Homo sapiens: one gene and its partner. The protein of the gene in region 1 purifies or fractionates together with the protein of each later gene. This does not show direct contact. Each region holds a gene or a part of one and is shown on either strand. Other genes may lie near its edges. The genes, in order: IGFN1 and KLHL25.

Region 1 (11,094 bases):
TTGAGACAGGGTTTCACCACGTTGGCCAGGCTGGTCTCGAACTCCTGACCTCAGGTGATCCACCTGCCTCGGCCTCCCAAAGTGCTGGGATTACAGGCATGAGCCACTGTGCTTGGCCTTTTATTTTCTATTTTTTGAGACCTGTTGCCCAGGCTGGAGTGCAGTGGTGTGATTATGGCTCACTGCAGCCTTGACCTCCCAGGCCCAAGTGATCCTCCCACCTCAGCCTCCCAAGTAGCTGGGACTACATGCATGTGTCATCACACCCAGCTAATTTTTTTATTTTTTTTGTAGAGGCGGGGTCTCCCTGTGTTGCCCAGGCTGGTCTGGAACTCCTGGGCTCAAGCTATCCTCCCCCCTCGGCCTCCCAAAATGCTGGGATTACAGGCATGAACCATCACGACCAGTCCATCCACCCTTTTTATAGAGGAAGCAAAGGCTTTCTCAGAAATTCCTGGAGCTCATTGGTCAGGACAGTGTCACATGAGCACTGCTAGTTGCAAGGGAAGCTGGGGAAGGTGAGTGTTTAGCTTTTTCAGCCTCTCTAGTGGAAGCAGATGATGAAGAATACAAATGGCTGCAGGATTAGCCAAACAGCAATGTCTGACCTATTTGGCAATATTGGGCCTATACCCTGAAATGGCAGCTCCCAGGTGGAGTGAAAGAGCAGCTGCCCCTTTAGATACTCTTGAGTTTGTTGTGGTTGCCAGTGTCTGCTTCACGCATTTATGCCACCTCCCTGGCCCCTGCGGACACATGACTGGGCCTCCCCTGCATGAGATGATGCTTAGGTTGGTCCCCTTGGTCATGGTAAGGCTCTAGGGTAAAAAGGCTTATGATGGACAGACCCTCCACCCTGCTCCATCCCTCTTGCTGGGATCGTCCACGCCTTAGAGGACAGTGGGGAGAGCAGGGCTCTGGGACTCCATCAGTTTCTCAGGAAGACCATCAACATGTCTTGCTTCTCTCCCTGCTTGTCCACATCGACTCCTTCCTCTCCTCCCTGGATGTTGCAGTTGGCTTTCGGAAGAATCGGAAGAGGCACAGGGAACCGCAGGAAGGTAGGCAGATTTGTCAGAAACCTCCTTGGGGGCCTGTGGGGGATAGGCTACTCCTTTCCTGGTGTTCCCTGCCTGGTTGAGCTACCATGAACACCTTGTGGATCACCACCAGTCTTCAAGAGAGCCCCTTCCAAAGGCTCAGTTGTCAGCATGGACAACACAGAAAAGCTCTGCATCAACCCTCAGTCATCCCACCTGGGACTGAGGCCTCATTCCTGCTCCTTTTTCAGACCTCAGGAAGGAGCTGATGGACTTCCGGAAGTTGCTGAAAAAGAGGTGGGTTTGGGCCTGTCCATGAGGGATTTTGGAGGCTCCCATAGTATTCACCCCCTGCTATTTCCATAAGTAAGCTGGGCTTGAGCCCCACCTCTACCCAACACAGCAGGGAGCTAGACTGCCAGTAGCAGATGGGAGGATGGGAAGGGGACTGAACTGGATGGGAATGGGACAGAGCTCCAGCTCTGCCATTTCAAAGCTCTATATCCTTGAGTTAATCATCTCTCCTCTGATTTCCTCATTTGCAAAATGTGGTGGTCCACCAGAACAATGATGTACTTTTTTTTTTTAAGCAACAGAACAATGCAACACCCACTTTCCCCAGACATCCTACTTAGAAATCTACAATACAAGTTGTCAGGAGCATTTCTCCTGAAAGTTGTGGGGTGAGGCTGAGGCTCGCCCCACCCATCTCTGAATCCTTCTGGCCTCAACAGTGGTCAGTCCCAGAGATTCCAGGCTCTGCGTTTCCTCGAGTGCAGATAGAGCAGCTTCCCAGAACTACTTGGGACACCAGAGCCAGGTGGCCAACAGAGGAGCAGGGATTCCTCTGGCCTCTGACCTGCTAGCCTTGCTCCCCAGGGCCCCACCAGCCCCCAAGAAAAAGATGGACCTTGAGCAGATATGGCAGCTGCTGATGACAGCAGACAGGAAGGACTACGAGAAGATCTGCTTGAAGTATGGCATCGTCGACTACCGTGGCATGTTGCGCAGGCTGCAGGAGATGAAGAAGGAACAGGAGGACAAGATGGCACAGGTGCCTCACCCCATTCCCACCCCTCACTCCATGCCCACCCCACACACCTGGACCATAGGTGCCTCACACCTGGAGGTGGGCTTGGAGGCAGAACTTAGGAAACCAAGTATGATCAAGGGGCCTGTCTCCATCTAGTCCCCAGTGGGGTATCTGGCTAAGGCCCTGGGATCCCAGGTTGGTGTCCTGCCTTTGCAACCTGGTTCTGATACTTACTAAACTCTGGAGCTTTGGAAGGGTTAGGGCCTCTGTATCTTGGTGTCTTCATCTGTAAAATGGGAATTATAGTCATGCCTACCTTGTAGGGTTATTGGGAGGATAAATGAGAGAATGTAATTAAAGTACTTAGCTTAGTGCCTTGATTTTTGCTATCATTATCATTGTCACCAGATTGCGGGGGGGAGGTACCTGGTTTATTTCTTTCTTTTTTTTTTTTTTTTTAAGATGGAGTCTTGCTCTTTCGCCCAGGCTGGAGTGCTGTGGCCGGATCTTGGCTCACTGCAAGCTCCGCCTCCCAGGTTCACGCCATTCTCCTGCCTCAGCCTCCTGAGTAGCTGGGACTACAGGTGCCTGCCACCACACCCAGCTAACTTTTTGTATTTTTAGTAGAGACGGGGTTTCACCGTGTTAGCCAGGATGATCTCGATCTCCTGACCTCGTGATCCGCCTGCCTCGGCCTCCCAAAGTGCTGGGATTACAGGCGTGAGCCACCGCACCTGGCTACCTGGTTTACTTCTAAAGGCTTTCATGGAAGGGAATTTCACAGTTCCCATTAGCACTCTGATCCCAGAATCTTATCAGCTGTACAGGAATTTCTTTCCTGTGTCTAACTTAACTATAGCATAAGTCTAATTTTTCTTCTGAAAATGGAAAACAACTAGTTTTTATTATCCTGAAAATAGTATCTTATCCCCTTGAAAGATAAGCTTCCTTAAACCTAACACCTAGGGTCTCAGCCTTCTCTCCTCCAAGCTTTCTCATTGGCTTTAACACGGGACCTAGCACAGAGCTTTGCACACGGTAGGTGTTCAACTAATGTTCGTTAGAAGTACAGATAGATGGAAAAGCCCCACTGTGTTCTAGCAACTGAACACCTGGGGTCTTTTCTTGGTTGTCTTCCTGATCTGATCTCTCATCTTGGAGAATTTCCTTCCTTGAGGGGCTTACTTTCCCCCACTTGTAAAAGGGGCCAATGCATGCTCATCTGGAACGCTGTGGGCCTGGGATGGTACCAGAGCCTATGAGGGTTCAGAGTACCCCGAAGAGAGAGCTTCATGAGCTCTCCTGCTGGGTGTTTGTCTGCTTTGTAGTACATCAACACCATCTCCAGCTTAAGACACATCAGGGTCACCAAGGATGGGAATGCAAAGTTTGACTTGGAGCTGGATCTCAAGGATTCTCAGAGCAAGATTTACCTGTATAAGGTGAGGCTGGAGGGGCTATGGGTGGGGGGGATCTGGCAGGGATGCTTCAGGTCTAGTGGAGAGGGAACTATGGGTACCCTGCATTCCTCCAAGGGAACAACCAGAGCACACAAGTGGTGAGCCCCTCATCCCATGGAGTTCCTGGCTGGACCTGGACCAAACCCTGGTGTAGACCATCCATCCACAGGGACTTCTTATCTCACACTGAGCAACTGGGCTCTCCAGCTGGGCCTGTGATTCTCTGTAAATTGTGTCTAACACCAGAGCACGGGGGTGAAAAGAGGGTTCTGAGAAAGTGCACCCCTTTCCATCTGAGCTTTCTCTCCAGAGACTTCATACATCCCTACCTGGGCTCTAGGAGTAATTATCTGCCAACCAGATGGGGGCAGAGGCAGGTGGGGAGCAGTTGGTAAAATTTGGCTAGTTCTGTAGCCAAACTCATCCAGCTTCATCACTTATAAGCTGTATGACCTCAGACAAGATACTTATCTTCCCCATGCCTCGGCTTCCTCACTTGTGAACTGGGGATAATATAGGACCTGTCTCATGGTGTACTGCAGCGCTAAATGACATCATGTGTGACTTGCCCCTCCCCTCACCTCTCTGCTTATTCCTGCTTCTCTTCCCCTTGTCCCTCAGTTCCTGGCCCACTGGCCTTGTCCCTGTTCCTTTGCCCAGGTGTTCCCTCTGCTTGGCATGCTCATCCCCGATATCGACAGGGCTAATTCCTTCATGGCAGAGAGACTTCCCTTGGCCACTCCGTGTGATTCCACTATGTCCCTCCAGCCCCACCCTGGCACTCAGGAGCCCTGGACCCATATCTACCTTTTTGTTCCCTAGTTTTCTCTCTTTCTTTCCCTTTCTTTCTTTTTCTTTCTTTCTTCCTCCCTCCCTCCCTCCCTCCCTCCCTCCCTCCCTCCCTTCCTTCCTTCCTTCCTTCCTTCCTTTCTTCTCATTCTGTTGCTCAGCCTGGAGTGCAGTGGTGCAATCTCGGCTCACTGCAACCTCTCCCTCCCAGGTTCAAGTGATTCTCCTGCCTCAGCCTCCCGAGTAGCTGGGATTACAGGTGTTTGCCACCACACCCAGCTAATTTTTTGTATTTTCAGTACAGACAGGGTTTCACCATGTTGGCCAGCTGGTCTTGAACTCTTGGCCTCAAGTGATTCACCCGCCTCAGGCTCCCAAAGTGCTGGGATTACATGCATGAGCCATCACACCCGGCCAGTTCTATTTTTTTCTAACATAAATTATTTACTTATTTATGACATCTATTATTTATATTTTTCCCCCATAGGATTTTAGCTAGTGAGAGCAGGAATCTTTGTTTTATGCATTGATGTGTCCTAAGTACCTGAAACAGTGCCTGGCACACAGTGGGCCCCTAATAAGTATTAGCTATTGTTAATATTCAGCAAGTAGCAAACCTATCTAGGGCTTAGTTAAAGCAGGTATGCATATAGATTACTGGGTTTCATAGAGCCTTATGGATATCTGATGTTATTCTCTGCAAGTTCCTGTTGGTGAATAAGTTGAGCTGGGGCCTCTGGGCCATGGGTGTTGTGTCCGGCCTCCCCTGCTATCCTCGCAGGGCTGCTGGAGAGTAACTCTACTCACAGCCTGAGCTGGAATGTCAGCAACTTCAGGTGCCCCTTTGTATAACACTTGCAGACTTTTCACTCCATGGACATTCCTAGAGCATGGATTCCCATCCAGCTCACAATCCCTGTTCCCATGTTCTCCAGGCCCTGCTGTCCACCCCATCCCAGCTCCTCTATGGTTCCAGGAATCTGTTGTCTGGCGACTGGGCCCGTGGGAGAAAACTGCTGGTTATAGCCAGAATGGGACTGGGGCAGGAAGCACTGAGGACCCACTGAGGCCCGCCTCCTCTTCCTTTTCTGGCCTTAGGATGGTGAGATGATCCCCTATGGCTTCAACAACCAAACCAAGCACTGTCTGCGCCGGCTGGGGAAGCGCTATGAGTTCCAGATTCAAGACCTGAGGCCTGAGGACTCTGGCATTTACCAGGTCAAGGTGGAGGATGCTGTGGTCTTCTCCACAGAACTGGAGGCCAGTGGTGAGTGGTCTACACTGCCGAAGTTGGAGTTGGGGAGATATGTTAGAAATGGAGTCCATGTTGGTGCAACGTGTGTGTTGGGGGGTAAATGTGATGTGGCCCCAGCTGCAAAAGACAATTGGGAGAGGGACACATACCTAGATGGCCAAATTTTGATGCTTTCTGTTTTCCAAAGCCTTGGTGCGAGTTATCTCTCCTGGTGCTGAGCTGGGTTCTACTGAATTACTGTCACAGACATAGAACATATGTGTCATGCCTCTGCTTAGACCTTCTCTAGCCATCAATTATTTTCAGATCAGATCCAGACTAATTGCACAGCCTCTAGAACTCCTTTCTGTTGCATGTCCTCATCTCCCACAACACCCTAGCAAGAATCTCTGGGTTAGGCATCCTCACGCTCCATACAGACCTTTCCTTTTCTGCTTCCTGTATTCCTTCCCCATCTAGGAACTGACACTCCTCCTTCATCAAACTCTGTCCCATCCCCATGAGTACCTGTGTCCACATCACTCTCAGAGCACCTGCCAGCTCAAGGGGGTTCTTGAAAGGACAACGAGAGGCCTGGGGAAGGGAGCTTTGGACAGACATGTCGTAAGAACATGGCTGAATCAAAGTTGGGGGAGAAAAAAGGGGGTTATGTGCCCCAGCACGGGGGAGGTGCCCAGATGGGGCTTTGGAAAGCCTGAAAACAGTGCAGTTTGGGAAAAGAAGTATGGGTTTGGGAGTCAGCCAGACCTGGGTGTGAATCTTGGTTTCTCTTAACTGCGTAAGACTGGGGCAAGTTATTTAACTTTTTAAGCCTTAGTTTTCTCACCTGTAAAAAGAAATTAATAATACTTATCTTGGAGATGGTCACAAGGATGAATAAGATAAACTACCGGCTCTTAGCATAGTGGTTTCCTTCATGCATCCACCTTGTCCCTAAATATAACTTTTGGGTTTGGAAGTATAGAATCCCAGAGCTGAAAATAAGCCTCATTGCTCATAACTGTAGCCCCTCATTTTACTTGGGGGGAATTGACACCTGAGGTCCAGAGGTGACCTGTCCAAGGTAACATGGGGAGTTTGTGGCTGAGCTGGTCTAAGCCAGGATTTCTGAATGGCCAGCCTTGCTGCCTTAGGTCACACTGTGTCATACCATCAAGCTGATATCCCCATTCCTATTTCCCCGGCAGCCATCCCCCCAAGAGTGGTGGTCCCACTGGCGGAGACCCACTGTGAGGAGCAGGGTGACGCAGTCTTTGAATGTACCCTCTCCAGCCCCTGCCCTAGTGCAGCCTGGCATTTCCGGCACCGGCTACTCCACCCCAGTGACAAATATGAAGTGTATGTGTCCCCTGACGGGCTGACCCACCGGCTGGTGGTGAGGGGGGCACGTTTCTCAGACATGGGCCCCTATTCGCTGGGCACCGGGCTCTACACTTCCAGCGCCTGGCTGGTGGTTGAAGGTGAGTGCTTCAAAACTCTGTCTTTCTCTGCCTCCAGGGAAGACCTTGGGGCTGCGGAGGCATGAGGAAGGCGAGGCAGTGGGATTTCCTTTGGTCAGAGAGAATAAGGAAAGCTCCTTAGATTATTCTCCACCCACTGCAGTGCAGACCTTCATGGCCAACCCAACCCTTCTCAGCTGTGCCTGCTCTACTGGGTCTCTTGGAATTACTTTGGGGCACAGATGGCTCTAGGGTCCTAGGCAGCCTTGGGACAGTGGCCCAGGTTCAGTCTGGATGAGAAGCCCCTGCACCAGACCAGAGAGCACTCTCAAACTTCCCTGGGGATAGAAATTTGCGTTCCAGATGTTCCCAGGAAAGTGTAAATTGGACATAAGTAAGGCAGGTGGTTGAGCAAGTCGATATTTTAAAAACCATGCACCTGCTGCGGCAGTTTGATAAACAAATGACTTTTGGCTTATGCGTTTTCTCCAAAACCCTCATGAAGCCTATAGCAGGGTGGCCTGCGGGTATAGGACTAGGGAGGTGGTGATGGGATTCACCCATCCATCCCTGGAACACCCTGGCTTCCTTCCCAGGTGGTCACCTTGCTTCTCTCCTGGGGAAGTCCAGGTCAGGCAAGCAGCTGGGCTCAGGCAGGTGCTTTGGCCGGATTTAACAGGAGTTTTGGTATTTTCTCTTGTCTCTCCATGTGGGCACTGACCTTCCATATGAATAACCCCTCACTGAAGCTGGGAAGGATAAAGACCTTCAGTCCACAAGTGCTGACCACAAACTGCAGAGGCAAGGAGCCCAGGCATCAGGAGCAGAAGAGTCTGGGAGCATCGAGAGCCAGGGAGAGAAATCCAGAGAGCAGGGCCCCAGGGGGGGCTCCCTTGAAGGGGCTGGGCCGGCTTCTGGGCTCCAGCACATAGCCAGCCCAGACAGGGATGGCCTTGGCAGACATGGCTACTCCTTGATGGGGGACAAAGGGACAGCTGACTCAGCCTGGGGCCCTGGACAGGAGGGCGAGGGCTTTCCAGTAGCAGAGGGAAGCAGAGCCACTCTTCCCAGGGAAAATCAATCCCACAGAGAGGGAGGCTGGGCCAGAAGCCTTGCAGAGAGGCCCCATCTACAGGGAGAGAGCTCAGAATCAGGGTTGGGCCTCCCAGAAAAACAACAGCAAGATCGTGGCAGAGACAGCAACAGTGATGAATGCTGGAGGAAAGCAGGAGGCTGGGAGGCTGGGTCCAGTCGGCTTCAGGCTGGAGGACTGGGGAGCAGCAGGGAAGGAAAGGAGCACAGAGGGGACAGTGGAAGACAACTGGACAGGCATGCCCCAGAGCAACTGTGGGATGCTCGACTGGGACCTGGGAGAGGAAAGAGCGACCTGCAGGGATGCCAGTCTGATCCTGTAGGGTCCTGGCCAAGAGGAAAGCAGATAGAGATTTCACAGGATGACAGCCTGGCTGAGATGGACAGAGGGGATGCTCCAAGTAGGGAAAGGGGGAGAGGAATAGTAGTGTGGGGTGGTGGGACTGGCCTGGGAGAAGCTGGAGACAGCAATGGGGCAGGAGGTCCTGGCACCCTGGAGCTTACTGGAGGAAGAGGTTCTGGCTCCAAGGTGGGCATGGCCCCTGAATCCTGGGGTTCTCAGGGAGGTAGAGATGCTGACTATGGGGAAGCCAGGGGCTACTGGGGGTCAGGAGAGTTGCTAGAACAGATACCTGGAGGCAAGGACTTCCAGGAACCATCAATATCAGGTGGTAGAAAATTCCTTCTGGGAGATGGGAGTCCTGAGATCAAAGCTGAAGACTCACTGCAGGAGGCAGATGGTATATGCCGGGGGGAGTCTGTAGTTACAGGAAGTGCCTACAAAACTGGCCCTGGAGGCCCAGGAGACCCCAGAGGCTGCGAAGGTGTCCTACAGGAGCTCAGGGGAAGGGATGGCCAGGAAACAGCTTGGGCCTCGGGTGAGGTAGAGTATGACCCCAGAAGCTTCCAGTCTTCCCAGGGCTGGACAGCAGGTCACAGAGCAGCAGGGGGTATTGGCAGAATAGAATCTAAGGGCACAAGTCCTTGGGATGACACACCATCTAGCCTCAGAAAAACTGGGGCCCACCATGGGCCTGGAGTGCTGGGGCCCAGTGGAGGACAAGAGGGTATGGGTGGTATCTGGGTGGCTGGACTGACGGAGTCTGGTCAGGGGGTGGATGCCAGAAGCCACTGGCTAAGTAGGGCTCCAGGCCTGGGTGCTCAGGGATCTGGGGGGACACTAGGAGATAAGAAAGGATTAAGAGGTCCTGGGTCAATAGGGTCTGAACCAGATTTCTGGAATGGGTCAGGGAGCTCCAGAGTAAAAGGACCCAGAGGTGAGACAGGCTATAAGGATGGCTTGGAAGGTCCCGGGAGAATGGAATCTAGGTACGAGGGTGGCTTAGGATATTCTAGGGAAATAAGCTCTAAAAGCGGGGCTGGTTATAGCTATGGCTCAGGGGTTCCAGGAGAAATGGGGTCCGGCCATGGTGCTGGTTGTAGAGTTTCCCCTAGGGCACCTGCGGGAGTGGAGTCTGAGGAAGGGGGTGGGTACAGGCATGGCTCCGGAGCGCCTGGGGGAGTGTGGTCTGGAAATGAAGATTCTGGCCCTGCAGGAGGAGGGTCTGGGAGAGTTGCCAGTCTTAAAAATGGCTCAGGTGGTCCTGATGGAGCACCCATGAATGACACCAGGAATTGGGCCTCTGCATGCCAGGCAGGCATGGACCCTAGGGGAGGGCACCATTCAGATGGTGGCCTAGGGAGTCCTGGGGTGACAGGGTCTGCGGGTAGAGGTGGTCTCAAGGCCCCTGGAGTAGTGGAGACTGTTGGGATGGGATGTGTGGAAGCAGAACCAGAGAGCTCTGGAAGAATAAGGCCTTGGGGTCAGACTGGAAATTATGGGGGCTTCAGAGCCTCAGAGGCCCTGGGGGCCTTTGGAGAAGGAGGCTATGAAGATGGCTCTGGGGGTCCAGGAGCCATGGGACCAGGGTCTCTGAGGGCAGGAAGCAAAGTGGGTGAGGGGGATGGGACAAGATGCCCTGGTGCTAAGGCCTCTGGAGCTGGAGCTGGTTATAGGGATGATACCAGGCACCCTGAGTCACTCGCACCTCACAATGGGGCCGCTTCTGGGAGCCAGTGGGCTTATGGGGCTGGCAATGTGCTGGGTTATGAGGATGGATCAGAACTTCCAGGGCCTCAGGGAACTGGGGTCAGAACAGCCTATGGAGAAAGGTCAAGGGGCCTTGGGCCTAGGAGTACAGGGCCAGGGGGTGAGGCAGGCTTTAGAGATGGTTCAGGAGGCCTCCAAGGAATGGGATCAGCAGATGGGCCAGGTTGTAGGAAGGGTATTGGGAGTTCTGGGGAAATGGGGTCAGTGGATAAGGAAGGTTATAAGAAAGATTTGGGGGCTCCTGAGAATATGGGTTCGGGGAGCAAGGCAGATTATAGGGATGGTGTAGGGGGTTCTGGGGCAATGGGGTCAATGGATGAAGCAGGTTATAGGAAAGATTTAGGGGCTCCTGAGGGAATAAGTTCAGGGAGCAAGGCAGATTATAGGGGTGGTTTACAGGATTCCAGGGAAGCGGGTTCAGGGAGCAAGGCAGATTATAGCGGTGGTTTAAAGGGTTCCAGGGAAATCGGGTCAATGGATGAAACAGATAATAGGAAAGATTTGGGGGTTCCTGAGGGAATGGGTGCAGGTTACAGGGCTGGTTTAAGGGGTCCTGGGGAGATGGGGTCACTGGATGAGTCAGGTCATAGGAATGGGATTGGAGGTTATGGGGAAATGGGGTCAGGTTATAGGGAGGATTTGGGGGCTCCTGAGGGAATGGGCACAGGGAGCAAGGCAGGTTATAGGGATGGCTTAAGGGGTTCTGGAGAAATGAGGTCAATGGATGAGGCAGGTTATAGGAAAAATTTGGGAGCTCCTGAGAGAATGGATTCAGGGAGCAAGGCAGGTTACAGGGGTGGTTTAAGGGGTTCTGGGGAAATGGGGTTAATTGAGGCAGGCTATAGGAAAGATTTGGGGGTTTCTGAGGGAGGGGGT
Region 2 (16,058 bases), on another chromosome or scaffold:
ACAGCTTTCAGTCACAGCATCCCAACAGGACTTATCAATCAGCAGCTATCCCCAGCTGATGGAAGTCAGCCCAGCCCCTACAGTAGGTTCCAACCCCTTTCCTTGACCACCTCATTGCCATACCAACCTAAAGCTGTCAAAAGCTGACACCTGTCATCTTCAAGGCATAATCATCCCATACTGCCTCCAGGTCCTTCTGGGGCTGTTAGAAACTGGGGAAGGGGTGCTGTGGGATTAGGTGGGGAAGCGAAGGGGTTTGGGGATAGGAAGGGCTCCCTGTTAAGTCCTTTTAACCCAGGAGCAGTGGAAAGAGCATGGGCTTTGGCACCAGACTGGGGTTCAAATGCTGTGGGTCTGTGATCAAGTTCCTTAACCTCATTGAGCTTTGTTAGCTTTTTTCAGGGGTATGGTGAAGGTTAACCACCATACTATGCAGAATCCCCTAGAATGGGGTCTGGCACCAAGTGGGTGTCAGTCATGCCGGGCTCCCCTTTCCCTTTTTTGTTTTTGTTCCCTGGGTGCAGAATTGAGGTTGGGTGCTTGTTGCTCTGCAGCTGACTTGCAGCCCTCCCCTGAGTCCCCAGTCACCTCACCCCCGCCCCCTACCTCTCTTGCCACTCTTTCTTACTGCTAAACCTTTCCTGCTTTCCTTCCAAGCCCTGTCCCAGCACCCTGTTGGATGATAAACGATAGATGTGTGTGGCTTATTAACCTTTTTTTCTTTTGAGAAGGAGTCTCGCTCTGTCGCCCAGGCTGGAGTGCAATGGCGCCATCTTGGTTCACTGCAACTTCTGCCTCCTGGATTCAAGTGATTCTCCCGCCTCAGCCTCCTGAGTAGCTGGGATTACAGGCACACACCACCATGCCTGGCTAATTTTTGTATTTTTGTAGAGACGGGGTTTCTCCATGTTGTCCAGGCTGGTCTTGAACTCCTGATCTCAGGTGATCCACCCGCCTCAGCCTCCTAAAGTGCTGGGATTACAGGCATGAGCCACTGTGCCTGGCATTTTTCTTTTTTTTTTTTTGAGACTGAGTCTTACCTTGTAGCCCAGGCTGGAGTGCAGTGGTGTGATCTCAGCTCACTGCAATCTCCACCTCTCAAGTCAACCAGTTGTCTGCCTCAGCTTCCCCAGTAGCTGGGATTACAGGCACCCGCCACCATGCTCGGCTTTTTGTATTTTTAGTAGAGACAGGGTTTCACCATGTTGGCCAGGCTGGTCTTGAACTCCTGACCTCGTGATCCACCTGCCTTGGCATCCCAAAGTGCTGGGATTACAGGTGTGAGCCACCGCACCTGGCCTTTTTTTTTTTTTTTTAAATGGCAGCTCTGTGGTCTCAGAAATCAATTTCATTGAGAAATTGCACCATATTTTCTGCAAATACATAAAAATCTTCCTGGTCATACTTTTCTCCCACAGTGGTCTCCTGTTCCCTGAGTTGGGTACAGAGTCTGTATGAGGCTCACCTGGGCCACTTCTTGTTTCAGCGTGACCAAGGCCCGAGGCCAACTCCGTCTCTTCACCATCCCATAGCTAGAGCCCTCAGACCTGGAACCTGTTGGCAGAAAGAGCACTTGAGTCAGAGTAGGGGAGTCGTGCTTGGCCCCAGCTTGCCTGTGTGACTACATGCAGGTTCCCTTACCCCTGTGAGCCTCAATTTGCTCTCCTGTATAATACTTCTATTAAATGTTTTGCTATAAAATTTCAAAAGTTCTTGCAAGCTCTGGTGTTCAGCAGTTTTATAAGGCTCGAGTTACTTGCTTAGCCTTTCTGGTCAGGAAGAGCTTGAACAGCCAGTAGAGTACAGAGGGGCCAATTTAGAAGTCAGGAATGGACCGGGCGAGGTGGCTCACCCCTGTAATCCCAGTGCTTTGGGAGGCCGAGGTGGGCGGATCACCTGAGGTCGGGAGTTTGAGACCAGCCTGACCAACATGGAGAAACCGCTTGTTTACTAAAAATACGAAATTAGCTGGGTGTGGTGGCTCATGCCTGTAATCCCAGCTACTTGGGAGGCTGAGGCAGGAGAATCACTTGAACTGGGAGGCGGAGGTTGCAGCGAGCCGAGATTGCACCATTGCACTCCAGCCTGGGTGACAAGAGCGAAACTCCGTCTCAACAACAACAACAAAAGAAGTCAGGAATGGGGTTCTAGTTCCAGCTCTGCCTTGGATGTGTGCTGTGGGAATTGGGCAAGTTACTTTCTCTGGGATCTAGTTTTTTCACCTGTAGAGTGAGAGGGGTGACGTAGGCAAGCTCCTAGTTTCCTGAAGACTCGATTCAGATTTTCCCAGTAACTCCAAAGGGACGGGGCTGTTCTCCTTGAGCCTCTGGCAGTTCCCTGTCCCTGCCCACTGCCTCAGAGTTTGAGGCCTCCTGCGAAGGGGCTGGTGGAGACAGAAGACTGCATCAGGGGAGCACCAGGCTGGGCTTAGGGGAGCAGGCGTGGGCTCAAGGGAAGGTGGTGTGTGGGTTACTCATTTCTCAGGGCCATCGCTCTGACTGGTCGTGGGCAGGGAGCTGGGCAGCAGTTCGTGGGAGCACCAGGATGACCCCCTCTGGAATGACTAGGGTGAGACTTCCCTGGTGGGATGTCCCTTGGGCACAGAGCCAGGGCCACCTCCCAGCAGAGAGTTGGACAACGAGCTTTGAGGAGCAAGGGAGATCTTCAGCAGATTAGCTGGACATGGTGGCAGGCGCCTATAATTCCAGCTACTTGGGAGGCTGAGACAGGAGAATCGCTTGAACCCCGGAGGCAGAAGTTGCAGTAAGCCGAGATCGCGCCATGGCACTGCAGCCTGGGCAACAGAGTAAAATTCTGTCAAAAAAAAAAAAAGGGATCTCAAGGGAGCCCAGCAGGGCAGGAGGAGGCGACTGAGCACCAGCCTGCAAGACCAGTTGGATGGCTCCTCCCACGGGGAAGCAGGGCTGAGCAGGCCATGGGAGCGCTGTGCCTGCTGCCACCAGCTCAAGGGCCACATTCACCTTAGGTGTCACTCCCCACCCATCTCTGCCAGGAGGAGCCTTCCACCATCAGCCGAGTGGTGAGGAGTAGGATGCAGGGAAAGGATGGAGACAAAAAAGCCTTGCTTACATTTTTTGCCTGTTCCCATTGGGCCCCCAAGGAGAGGCTGACCACAGATCCATCTAGGCTGAGCAGAATTAATTTCCTAATTAAGATAAGGAGAAGCTGTGCTCATTCAAACTCCAGGACAAGCTGCCAGCCAGGTTTGCTGTTGGCCAGGCCAATTTGTCTGAGAGGAGTGAGGGCCAAGAGATGGAGGAGCTCTTTTTCTAGAAAACCATGGCGATTCCATCCATTGTCCGGAGTTCATGTTCTGCACCCTAGCCAGCTGGGCTTGTGAGACCTTGGCAGCAAGTCCCTTAACCTGTGAACGCTTTTGTTGTTCACAGGCTTGGAAATCTGAGGGAGAAAGGTACCCAGCTTTGTTCATGCAACAAACATTTATTTAGTTTTCTGAATGGCTCGCCGTGGACTAGAAGCTGAGGAAAGAAAGTCAGGTTCAAAGAGCTCCTGCTTGGGAGCTCAGCGTCTGATGTGGGAGGCAGACAGGCGGGTATGGCACAGCGCTAGGGTCTCAATAGTGGGCATGTTGAGAATCTGCCTCAGTTTCCTCATTGATGAGGTGAGGAAGTGGACTGTTGGTTTCCTCATTTCAAATGTGTCCAGGGAATTTTTTTCCCCCATCTGTTCTCTGCCGGGCTCTGGGATTCAGTGGAGAACAAGGCAAGGTCCTCCCCGACCCTCTCCTGATCCCACATTCAGCTGAGGGAGGCAGACAACAGACTGACAAAAATATGCAGCTGCAGAGGAAGTGGACAGGGAGGTGTGGGAAGATGGTCAAGTGAGGATGCCCTCCGAAGAGGGGTCAAGGAAGGCCTCTCTGGGGTGGTGACATTTGAGCCAGCCGTGGGAGGATCAGAGAAAGGCCTGCCAGGTGGGTAGCACAGCTCGTGCAAAGGCTGGGCCTGCGTGGGCTGCGGACAGAGACATCATGAGGCACAGAGAGGTGCCAGACCCTGACATTCTGCAGTCTTCTGGTGCAGGGAGAGACTGAGGATAACATTGTTCTCTTTCATTTTATTGTTTTTCTCTGATTTAAATAATATATCAATGGATTTCCTTTTTTTTTTTTTTTTTTTTTTGAGATCTAGTTTCCCTCTCATTGCCCAGGCCGCAGTGCGGTGGCGCGATCTCAGCTCACCTCCGCTTCCCGGGTTCAAGCAATTCTCCTGCCTCAGCCTCCCAAGTAGCTGGGATTACAGGCGCAAGCCACCACGCCCAGCTAGGATTTCCTTTATAAATGAAAAATATAGGAAAAGATGGAGCACAGTGTGAGGGTCCATCCCCTCCTTTGTATCTGTCCACAGATGGGTGCATACCCTTCTAGTCCTCCGTTGTATGTGCAGATTTTGTGTTTACATAATTTGAATCATACTCAATACTCTACAACTTATACCACTTAGTGTGTGGTGGAGCTCTTTTTCACAGCGTCGTCATATTCCACACTGCAGCCAAACCATCATTTCCTCTCATTGTGTCCTAAGGAGAGACTTTAGGTAATGCCTCATTTTCCCTGTATGATCAATGAAATCTTGTGTGTCCTTCATCATGCATCTTTCTGAGCAAGTGTGATTATTTTAAATTTTCATTGTCAAAGCCAAATGCCCTTTGCAAAGATTTACCCAGTTTACTCTTTCACTAATAATAGTGCCTGAATGCCCATTTCTCTACAGACTCACCTAATTTTTTTTTGAGACTGAGTTTCGCTCTTGTCACCCAGGCTGGAGTGCAATGGCATGATCTCAGGTTACAGCAACCTCTGCCTCCCAGGTTCAAGCGATTCTCCTGCCTCAGCCTCCCAAGTAGCTGGGATTACAGGCAAGCGCCACCACGCCCAGCTAATTTTGTATTTTTAGTAGAGACTGGGTTTCTCCATGTTGGCCAGGCTGGTCTCAAACTCCTGACCTCAGGTGATCCACCTGCCTCGGCCTCCCAAAGTTCTGGGATTACAGGCGTGAGCCACTGCGCCCAGCCCCCAAATTTTTGATGTTATCCACATTTTTAGTTTTAGCTAATGTGATGGGGTGGGGGGGCGGGTGGAATCTCATTGTTCCATTAAAAAAAATGTTTATTCAGGCTTTGTCCTTTGATTCTAGTCCACTTTTGTCTTTCCAGAAGATCAAAGTTTATTGAGTGCTGGTTCTGCCTCTTATTGGTCTCCTGACCTCAGCTGGGTACTCATCTGTGAAATGAAGCCCTTTAATCCCTGCCCGCCCCTGCCCCCCACTAGGCTGCTGTATTTTTTGCATGGGAAAACATTCCTGAAAGTTCATTTTATGCTGAAAAGCTCTGCAAACATGAAGAGGCATGGTTTTTACTAGCGAAATGGAAATATCTGGAACATTTGAGTGAATTCAGGTGTTTCTAAACAGCCAGCATATCCAGGGGAGGAGCTGGGGTGACTTTGCCCTTGTGCAGTGGAGCTGGCCTTAGGTGGGAGGTGTCTGCCTATTGTCCCAGAGATGCACGGGGCCTTACCTGGCTGAGAGCCATCTGGCTGGGCTTGAGAGCTCTTCTCAGAGGGCTGGCTTAGTCAATGATCTGTCACCTGTCTGCAGGAATAAAGAAATGAGCCAGGAGGACAGAGAGAGTTCCGTAGCTGGTCCAGAGAAAGGCCCAGAAAGGGGCAGTGGCCACCACAGACTAAACCCTGTTTACTTGCCTGTGTGGTCCCAGGAGGCATCGGGCCCCATGATAGAGGAGCCAGGGAACTGCTGACCATGGCCTGGGCCCCAGAGGAATTCATTACTGCTGGGTACCTGGGGACGTTTTGGCCAGGCTCTCCCCACCCTTCAGGAAGCAACATCCAGGTTTGGCCATGACTCCCCTGCTGCCCTGGAGATGACTCAGAACCAAGCTTCAGAGGAGGCTCCTGTGATCCCAGCCAGCCTGACCTACTTGGAACAATCTCAGGGACAGATGTAGGTAGGGGGAAGGGAGAGGGTAACCAAGGGGACAATGGGACCCTCAAAGGGCTTTGGTAGGGAGGGCTTCTGCCTTTATACCTCTGCAGCTAGTGAGCAGGAGAAGGGAAAGGGGAGGGGCCTCGCTGAAAGCAGTTTTTGCGTTTATTAGACACCTCCTGATTCTGAGAGTTGGGTGTTTCATTAAGAGAGTAAGGGAAGCATCTCACTCTAGAGCTGGTTTTGCATGGGTCCTCCTGGGGCGGGGGGGTGGGTCGGCTGCCTTTGCTGGGCTCCTGTCCCACTGCCATTGTGAGCGCAGCTTGAAGGCATTTCGCTGAGTTGGAGTGAGGTCGAATCACCAGGTTTCTTTTCAGGCATCAACTGGTATATCTGTGTTGCAGGAAGTTGCAGTTGCTATTTTTACCACTCCAACCAGGACTTTTTACTGGGAGGTACAATTACAAGCAAAATGCCAGGGTTTGGCTGGTTAGCTAAGCCGTGGGAGGCTGCTGCGGGCTGAGGCAGGGGCCACTGCACATGGTCCTTTGCTGTGTTGTACAAAGCAAGACACGTTTGCATGTGGACACACACCTACCCTGGTTGCTGGGTGGCTTTGTCTGAACCACTTCCTGTGCCTGGAGTTTCCTCTAGGTGGAAAAAAAAAAAAAGGACTTTGCTGGGTTTTGCTCAGATAATTGTACCTGGCTGCCAGGGCAGCTCCAAAGCTGTAAGCAATGTAGTTCTGACTGCCCAGAAGGTTGAAACTTTGTTAAATGAAATTGAGAACCTGCTCTATACTACCCACTCTGCTAAGGACCAGGATATAGGAATACATCAGTTGGCCGGGCGTGGTGGCTCATGCCTGTAATCCCAGCACTTTGGGAGGCTGAGGCAGGCAGATCACGAGGTCAGGAGATCGAGACCATCCTGGCTAACATTGTGAAACCTCGTCTCTACTAAAAATACAAAACATTAGCCGGACGTCGTGGTGGGCGCCTGTAGTTCCAGCTACTCAGGAGGCTGAGGCAGGAGAATGGTGTGAACCCGGGAGGCGGAGCTGGCAGTGAGCCGAGATCACACCACTGCACTCCAACCTGGGTGACAGAGAGAGACACTGTCTCAGAAAAAAAAAAAAAAAGAAAAAAGAAATACATCAGTCTCTGCTCTCTAGCATCACATGTCCAGGAATTGAAAATGCAGAAAGCGTGAGTTGTCTTCTGCTCCTTTTGGATAATTACCTGGTGTGTTTTTAATGTCTATACATTATGACTAGAGGCCAGGTGGGGCTTATATTGGTTTCTGTTACAGCATAACACATCATCACAGGCTTAGTGGCTTAATCAGTTCCTATTGATTAATGCACAGTTCTGTAGGCTGGAAGTCTGGGCTGGCCTGACTGGGTTCTCTACTTAGGGTCTCACAAGTCCAAAATCAAGGTGCAGCTGTACTGGGCTCTTGAGGCTCTGGTGAAGAATCTGCTTCCAGGCTCAGGTTTTTGGCAGAATCGAGTTCCTTATGGTCGTAGGACTGAGGTCAGTCCCCATTTCCTTGCTGGCTGCAGCCGGGTTCTAGTCTCAATGCCCTCCATCTTCAAACCTGCAGTGATGTGTCACATCCTTTCTTGCTTTGAATCTCCGACTCTTTTACTTTTGGGACCAGCTGGAGAAAACTCTGCTTTTTTTTTTATTTTTTTATTTTTTTTGAGATGGAGTTTCGCTGTTGTTGCCTGGGCTGAGTGCAGTAGAGCAACGTCAGCTCACTGCAACCTCTGCCTCCCAGGTTCAAGCAATTCTTCTGCCTCAGCCTCCTGAGTAGCTGGGATTACAGGTGTGTGCCACCAAGCCTGGCTAATTTTTTATATTTTTAGTAGATACCGGGGTTTCATCATGTTGGCCAGGCTGGTCTCGAACTCCTGACCTCCGGTGATCCGCCTGCCTTGGCCTCCCAAAGTGCAGGGATTACAGGCATGAGCCACCGTGCCCAGCCAACTCTGCTTTTAAGGGGCTTATTGACTAGATCAGGCTCACCCAGATAATCTCCCTTCTTTAAGGTCAACCAATTGATCAGTAACACCATTAATTACCTATGTAGCACACATTAATTAGATTTGAAAATCTCTGTCATGATCACAGGAATCAGGTCGACATCCATGGACCTGCATCAATAACAATATGATTAATAACAGCAGCTGTCATGAATCAAGCAAAATTTGTGTCCCACCATGCTACACTCTTTACGTGTATTCTCTCTTAATTCTGAGGATGGTACCTCGAGGTCAGGACAGTTATTGTCACCCCTGTTTTTCAGATGAGAAAACTGAGTCTCAGAGAATTTCAGTATCTTGGACCAGTTTTACAGGTAGCAATGGCAGTGCTGGGATTTGAAACCAGGGACTCTTAGCATCTAACCTTCCTGGTAGGCTGCCCAAGGTCGGTATCTGCAATTCGCTTTGTATGATTTATGGAACACCATCCAGAAAAGAGTTAAGGTTTGCTTTTTCCCATCTAGCATTTAAAATTCTTTTTTTTTTTTTTTTTTATTGAGGTGGAGTCTTGCTCTGTCACCCAGGCTGGAGTGCAGTGGTGCGATCTCAGCTCACTGCAAGCTGCACCTCCTGGGTTCAAGCGATAGTCCTGTCTCAGCCTCCTGAGTAGCTGGGATTACAGATGCCTGCCACCAAGCCTGTCTAATTTTTCTATTTTTAGTAGAGAGGGGGTTTCACCATGTTGACCAGGCTAGTCTTGAATTCCTGACCTCAGGTGATCCGCCCACCTCAGCCTCCCAAAGTGCTGTGATTATAGGCATGAACCATCACTCCTGGCCTAAGATGTTTAAATATGGCTGGGCACAGTGGCTCATGCCTGTAATCCCAGCACTTTGGGAGGCCAAGGCAGGTGGATCACCTGAGGTCAGGAGTTCGAGACCAGCCTGGCCAACATGGCAAAACCTCATCTCTACCAAAAAAAAAAATACAAAAATTAGCCAGCCGTGGTAATCCCAGCTACTTGGGAGGCTGAAGCAGGAGAATAGCTTGAACCCAGGAGCTGGAGGATTGCAGTGAGCCGAGGTCGCATTGCTGCACTCCAGCTTGGGCGATAGAGTGAGACTATGTCTCAAAATAAATAATAAATAAAATGTTTAAATATGGTATATGTTGATTATATTGCATATAATACGGCAGGTACCAGGCAGGCACCAGGGAACTCTCAGGTGGGTCTAACAGATCTCTGGATCATTTTGATTCTTTCTCCCGTGGGTATTGTGGCTAATCCCCATTTCATTCAGCAGTATTTATTAAGCATCTAATCGATTCTAGGTAGCAAAGATGACACAGAACAATGTCCTTGAGCTGCCAGTACAGAGAAGGGCACAATACGCAGTGACCTGAGGAGTGAACAGTGCTGTCCAGCAGTAGAAGAAAGGCTACCGTGCTGCAGCAAAGGCACAGAGGGCAGAAGAACGTTCATTCTAGGAGACAAGACAAAATTATGTTATTTACTGCATGCCATATGCCCTGTGTGTCGCATGGGGCACCACATTGTAGGTGCTCAGATTTCAGTGTACTTACTGCATTCATTTTCTGAGCATGTACTGTGGACAAGGCCATCCACATACCCGACAAATGTAAAATCCAGAGTGGGGTGTAGCTATGAAAGGAGAGATTGGGGAGGTGAGGGTGTGGGGCTGAGCAGGGAGAATGAGAGGAAGGGAGGGGGAGAGCTAAAGCCGAGAGAGGGAGGAAGAGGGGCTGGGGGTGGGACAAAGCTGGAAAGGGAACCGATTGAACACAGCTTGGATGTGAAAGCCTCCTTGAAGGCTTTTGAGCAGGAGCGCTCACAATTTGGCACTGGGTTGGTAGGTGTGGGAAGAAAGGGTTCAGGGGCCTGACCATAACCTGGCCTGCAGTGGTGACGCAAGACTGGGAAGGAAAACCCCAATGCAAGGTCCCAGGAAGGATGATGCAGTGGAACTTGGTGGCTAAACCATATGCTAAAAATGTGTATATGAATGACTGGCTATTTATGGGCACCCATGTTTTTGCTATAAATAAACGTACATATGTAATTTCAAGAGACCGAGAATTATCAACTGCAAAGCCCAAGTGTAGCAGTCTACTCACGGCCCCTGTACTTTGCTACTGGAGGGCCTGTCCTCTGCAAACCCAAGGTCTTTTTTTTTTTGGAGAAGGATGAGGTGGTCCTGTGGGTGAGAGAAGGCTTTTGATAATGAAGGGAGGAGCAGGCAGGGCCAGGTCATTAGAGGGAGGCAGCCAGCAGTGGGTGAGAGGGTACTGGGTCCAGCTGCCTCCGGTGACAGCAGGCTCTAGTGCATCACAGTACAAACGGGATGGAGACCCCCTGCATAGGCCCCCATGCTTCCTACAGAATTTTCTTTTTCTTAGTTCTTAAAAAAAACAGTGGTTAGTGTGGAAGATAAGAAAAATCTTCTGGCCAGGCGCGGTGGCTCACATCTGTAATCCCAACACTTTGGGAGGCCGAGGCAGGTGGATTACTGGAGATTAGGAGTTCAGGACCAGCCTGGCCAACATGGTGAAACCCCGTCTCTACTAAAAATAGAAAAAATTAGCCGGCATGGTGGCATGTACCTATAATCCCAGCTACTTGGGAGGCTGAGGCAGGAGAATTGCTTGAACCCAGGAGGTGGAGGTTGCAGTGAGCCGACATCACACCATTGCTGCACTCCAGCCTGGGCAAAAAGAACGAAACTTTGTCTCAAAAAACAAAAAAAGAAAAATCCGCTACCGCAATGTTCTCAAAGTGTGGTCTGGGTGTCCCTGAGATTCTCTTGGTGGAGAGTCCACAAGGTCAAAACTATTTTTGTGGTAATACTAAAACATTATTTGCCCTTTTCACTCATTCTCTCCAGAGTGCATAACTCAGTGAACCGATGTTTTCCAAATGGCCGATGCCTGATGTTACAGAATCACACATGGGTAAACAATCCATTCAAAGTGCAGGACAGGCTGTCAGATGGGAATGCCACTGAGTACAAAAGTTCATTGATACGGGCTGGGATACGGGCTCCTGAGTAGCTGGGATTACAGGTGCCCGCCACCACCATGTTGGCCAGGCTGGTCTGGAACTCCTGACCTCAGGTGATCCACCTACCTTGGCCTCCCAAAGTAGTACTAGGATTACAAGCATGAGCCACTGCGCCCGGCCCCTTTGGTTTTTTTTAGATAGCTGTGTGGAACTCCACTCTGTGCGTGTACCCAGGTTTATCTCACCAGGCCTCTTATTCGTGAACATTGTAGTTGTTCGCAGCCCCTCCTTTTGTAACCATGCTGCGGTGTGTAACCATTTTGTAACCATGTGCAGGCATGATGGAAGGGAAATTTTTAGGAGTGGAAATGCTGGGGCAGAGGGCACATGCATTTGTCATTTTGTAAGATGTTTCCCAATTGTTGTCTGAAGAGATTGTGCCAACTATGCTCCCCTTGCTCTCATCTCTGTCAGCGGGTAAAGAAAGAGTTGTGTCTTGGGCTTTGGGAATTGAGAGGCATTCTCATTCTGATTCAGCATCAGCGTTGACAGCCTAGAGAAGAACAGAGCTTCTGGAGAACAGGGAGAAAGAAATTCACTACCAGTAAGTGGCCAGTGCTTGGCATTTGTTCTTTTTTTGTTCTGTTCTGCATGTTTGTGTTCCTCCAAGACTGTCACTCCTGGTGGTTCATTGAAAGTGATATCTAGGCCAGAGTGCTTTTAATGGCTCCATCTGTGGGACCAGACAGGAAGAGAGACAGCCTCCCTCCAGGTCCTCAGACTGCATCTGTTTGCAAAGGGCCAGGCCAGTCCTGCCATAGAGGGGGAATCCTCCTCAGGAGGCCACGTTTGCTTTGGAGGGAGCCAATCTCGCTGCCCCTCTTTGTTTCTGTCTCTGGCTTGCTCTGGATAAGTGGAAGGAAACGAGTTACTTCACCAGATGGGTGAACCTGAGTGCTGAGTTCTTTGTCCCCTCTGTGGTGACAGCAGTGGAGTCCACTTTATTGGCATTACTCCCGTCTGGTGCAGCAGCTGGGCTTGCAGATGACTCCCAGCTCTGGGGTCCAGAGAAAGCCTGGGCAGCACCCCCAACCTGAGGGGGTTGGCATGTGGCAGGTAGAAGCCAGGCGGCACCTTCCATCTGCCTTGACAGTTTAGAGGGGCTGCCACCCCTCCTTGAGCTGAAAGAAGCCTCTTCGTTGCAGGGTGGTTTAAGTGTGGCTTGCGGGTGGCCTACCTGGTAAATAGAACTTTTAGGACGGTATGACATAAAAACATTTTTTCTCAAAAGGATTTATCTCAAGAGAATACAGTGAACCAACAGAAGCAAAAGGCATTAGTTTTTCCTTGCATAAAAATTCAGAAAATTATGGGTGAATGGATTTGTAAACCATAGTGATGTGTTTCCACAGACATTACAATTTACAGTTGACAACCACAAAGACACTAGACTAAGGTTCCTGAGGGCTCCAGAAGGCTGGGTCCCCAGTGCCTGCACTTGGCAGGCCTTTAATCAGTCTTTGTTCAGTAGTGAGGGCAGAATAGGAAAATGGCAACTCTGTGAAAAGTTGAGGTAAAACCAGTGTAAAATAGTATTCTGTAACTGCAATAATTTAAAAGTGTTTGTTTTGGGATAAAAGCTGAAAATAATAAGCCATAGTGAAAATAGTAGTTGTGTTTGCAGTGTTTCTCAATCTTGTTGGCACCTCCCTACCCCTAAGCCATTTTAGATGTTTTTTCCTAATTGCACCCACCCTCCTCATTGCATTTTAATACCACATGTGTATCTATGCCTTATACATACGATGAAGAAGAGTTTTTCATTCCCCAAGAACTAAGCTGTGTGTCCCCATCCACTGCCTCCTCCCTGCTCACTTTGGTCAGGCAGTGTGGTTCTAGGGCATTAGTGTCTTTTCTGTCTTGCTCCTCACTGTTAATGTCAGTAAAAGACAACACAGTGGAGCTCCTGGGTGTGGCTTTTGGCCTCTCTCACTTGGTCTGTAGAGCTCCCACTCAAAAAGACAGGACGCTGGGCAGAAAGGCAGGTGCTGCCCATCCATGGCTGCATCTATCTGCACCTGCCCCGGGCTGGATGTGTGGCCTGAACAGTTCCTCCCATGGGAGGGTTCGGCTGGCTTCTCTTCTTAGCAAGATGGCTTCTCTTTAAAAAAAAAAAAAAAAAAATTGTTGGTGAGGAGCTGGCCAAATCCATACGTTGCCTTTGAGTAGCTGGGCAAGTCCTGGATAGGTCCTTTCTCTAAGGTGAACTTTCTCAGTCCTGATTCCCTATCTGATCACAGAGGCTGCTCCCTACTAGGACCAGTGACCCATAGGAGAGAAGTGGGTACCATGGGGCCTGGGAGCTTAATCCTCTTCGGGATCCCTCTGTCCTGGTTGCACAGAAGCTGGTGGAGAAGGACTGCTTAAGGGGTAGACGGAGAGGACAGTGTCCTGGTGCTGGGACCTGCTGGTGGACACAGGGCTGAGGCCCCACAGACCTCTCTTCTGTCCCCTTTGGTGCTCAGCAAAGAGAGGGATGGCCTGGATTTGAACGCCGCCCCTTCCCCAGTCTTGGGTCAGTGAGCTCACATAGTGTAGTTGTGGGAACAGACTCAGCAAGACAGAGCCCTGGGCTCTGCCCCCACTCCTTGCGTAGCTTTGGGCAAATTGCCTAACACCTCCCTGCCCAGTTTCCTAAGCTGTGAAATGCAGACGATGGTTATACCTAAGGCTGAGTAGGGATGAGGTGAGTTAACACGTGAAGTGCTGAGACGGTGCCCAGCATATGATACTAAGCAACTGTGATTAGCACTGTTGTTGCCATTATCATTAACCTGCAAGCTTCTATTTTCTTATCGGTAAATTTTTTACAGAAATAGTGTGGCATATGGCAGGATTGGACTTTCTGGCTCTCTGGTGGGTGAGTGAAGGCGTGTAGCTGGATTTGGCCAGTGAGATGTGAATAGAAGTGCTGTGTGTCTTTCCAGGCCAAGCATTTAATTGTCAGTGCTATGCTTTCCAGAGCTCTCTCTCCGCCCTTTGGCATAGTGACTGGTGACATGGTGGCAGCTCTGTCATCTGGGTTCCTAGGAGTGGGATTGATGAGAACACTCATTACCGCCTGAACCATGATGCATGTATTAATAGTATGAGCAAGAAATAAAATCTTTCTCCTGTACAGCTGCTGCGATTTGGGGGTTGTTCCTTGCTGCGGCAGAACCTCATCCGTCCTGATTAAGACAGAAAGTCATAACCATGTTGAGCTTGGTTGTGAGGATTAAATTTTGTATGTAAAATGCCTAGCACAGTATCAGGTACATGATAGTCGTGCATTTGATTTGGCTCCCTTCCTGGCCAGAATCCCCTGCTGATTTTTAGCAGCACGTGTTGCTTCATCTTTCAGCAGAGTTTCACAGGCCTTGACCCCTTACCTCCTGTTCTGTGCCTTCTTTGTGAAGAAGAGCTTCACCAAACTGGGTAGGGCCCAGCGTGGTGCACCGCCTGACCCGTTCCTCTGGAGTGGAGAAGGCGTCCCTCTCAACTTGTAATCACAGCTCCCACTCCCTGGTGACCAGAGGCTGCAGTCACCCTGGGACTCTGCGGTCAATCCTGGAAGTTAAAGTGGCTGCCCTTCAAGTGTGCTTAATGTTTGGGTGCGTTACGTGAAAAGGCTGGAGCATGTGGAGAAGGCACTGAAACATCGGCCGGCCCTCTGGGTCTGTCGGGACCTCCCTTCGCTTTCCAGGCTTTGGCTGCAGGCTGACGGGTAGGGCCATGTGTAGAGTAATCCTCTGATTCATTGTCCACAAGGGACACTGTGTCTGTGTCTGGGTGGGGAAGGAGACACAATTTGAGAGCATTGGTTGGTGGCACTGTTGATCTTGACCTCAGGAAAGCAGGTGAAGCCAGGTGGTCTCACTGTATGCACTGTCAGAGGCTGCGGAAGGGCTGTGGTTCTGTGCTATTGGGGTGAGCATTGGCTGGGAGCTATTTGATGCAGGGACCTCATGGGATTGCCTGAAGGGGAAGCCCGTTTATTACCAAGCATTGTCTGAAGCAGACATTCTCAGCCCTTCCCTGATCCTTGCTCCATTCTAGAACTGCCCCATGGGCAGCCCATTCCTGTGCAGGAGGCATGGGGGCCAAAGTGAGGCAAGGAAGCTGGGGTGAGGCTGAGGGCTGGGAGGTTTAAGTACTGCCCAGCAAACTGTCCACCTGAGACCAGAAGGTGCCATTTCACAATTCTTGTGGCTTCACTGCAAGTGTCAGATCTGTTATTTATTTATTTATTTATTTATTTTTTTTGAGATGGAGTCTTGCTGTGTCCCCCAGGCTGGAGTGCGATGGTGGCATCTCGGCTCACTGCAACCTCCGCCTCCTGAGTTCAGGCCATTCTCCTGCCTCAGCCTCCCGAGTAGCTGGGACTATAGGCACCCGCCACCACACCCAGCTAATTTTTTGTATTTTTAGTAGAGGCAGGGTTTCACTGTGTTAGCCAGGATGGTCTCGATCTCCTGACCTCATGATCCGCCCACCTCAGCCTCCCAAAGTGCTGGTATTACAGGCGTGAGCCACCGTGCCCGGCCTCAGATCTTTTCACAATAAAAAGATGAAACAAAACCAAACTAAATAAATATGCACATTGAAAAATATAATTCAGATCAGTTACAGTTTAAATAACAAGATCTATACAATATTGAATAAATATGCATAAAGGTTTTTTTTGCTATTGATTGATTGATTGAGACGGAGCCTCTCTGTCGCCCAGGCTGGAGTGCAGTGGCACGATCTTGGCTCACTGCAACCTTCACCTCCCAGGTTTGAGCAGTTCTCCTGCCTCAGCCTCCCAAGTAGCTGGGACTACAGGTGCGTGCCACCATGCCCAGCTAATTTTTATACTTTTAGTAGAGATGGGGTTTCACCATATTGGCCAGGCTGGTCTCCAACTCCTGACCTCAGGTGATCTGCCCGCTTCAGCCTCCCAAAATGCTGGGATTACAGGCGTGAACCACTGTGCCCTGCCTGCATTTCTTTCTTTCTTTCTTTTTTTTTTTTTTGAGACAGAGTC

The links.
Region 2: the proteins of IGFN1 (region 1) and KLHL25 purify together in Homo sapiens (co-immunoprecipitation; 2 studies listed by BioGRID and IntAct, with this or other methods). This does not show direct contact.

Annotation. Positions count from the first base shown.
Region 1 is NC_000001.11:201,198,318-201,209,411, forward strand, and holds part of IGFN1 (immunoglobulin-like and fibronectin type III domain-containing protein 1), read left to right. Parts: intron 1-1,016; coding exon 1,017-1,061; intron 1,062-1,291; coding exon 1,292-1,337; intron 1,338-1,919; coding exon 1,920-2,094; intron 2,095-3,401; coding exon 3,402-3,515; intron 3,516-5,420; coding exon 5,421-5,589; intron 5,590-6,764; coding exon 6,765-7,037; intron 7,038-7,765; coding exon 7,766-11,094.
Region 2 is NC_000015.10:85,776,162-85,792,219, reverse strand, and holds part of KLHL25 (kelch-like protein 25), read left to right. Parts: exon of another isoform or gene 1-6,002; intron 6,003-11,509; exon of another isoform or gene 11,510-11,594; intron 11,595-16,058. UniProt on the Homo sapiens protein: Substrate-specific adapter of a BCR (BTB-CUL3-RBX1) E3 ubiquitin ligase complex involved in various processes, such as translation homeostasis and lipid synthesis.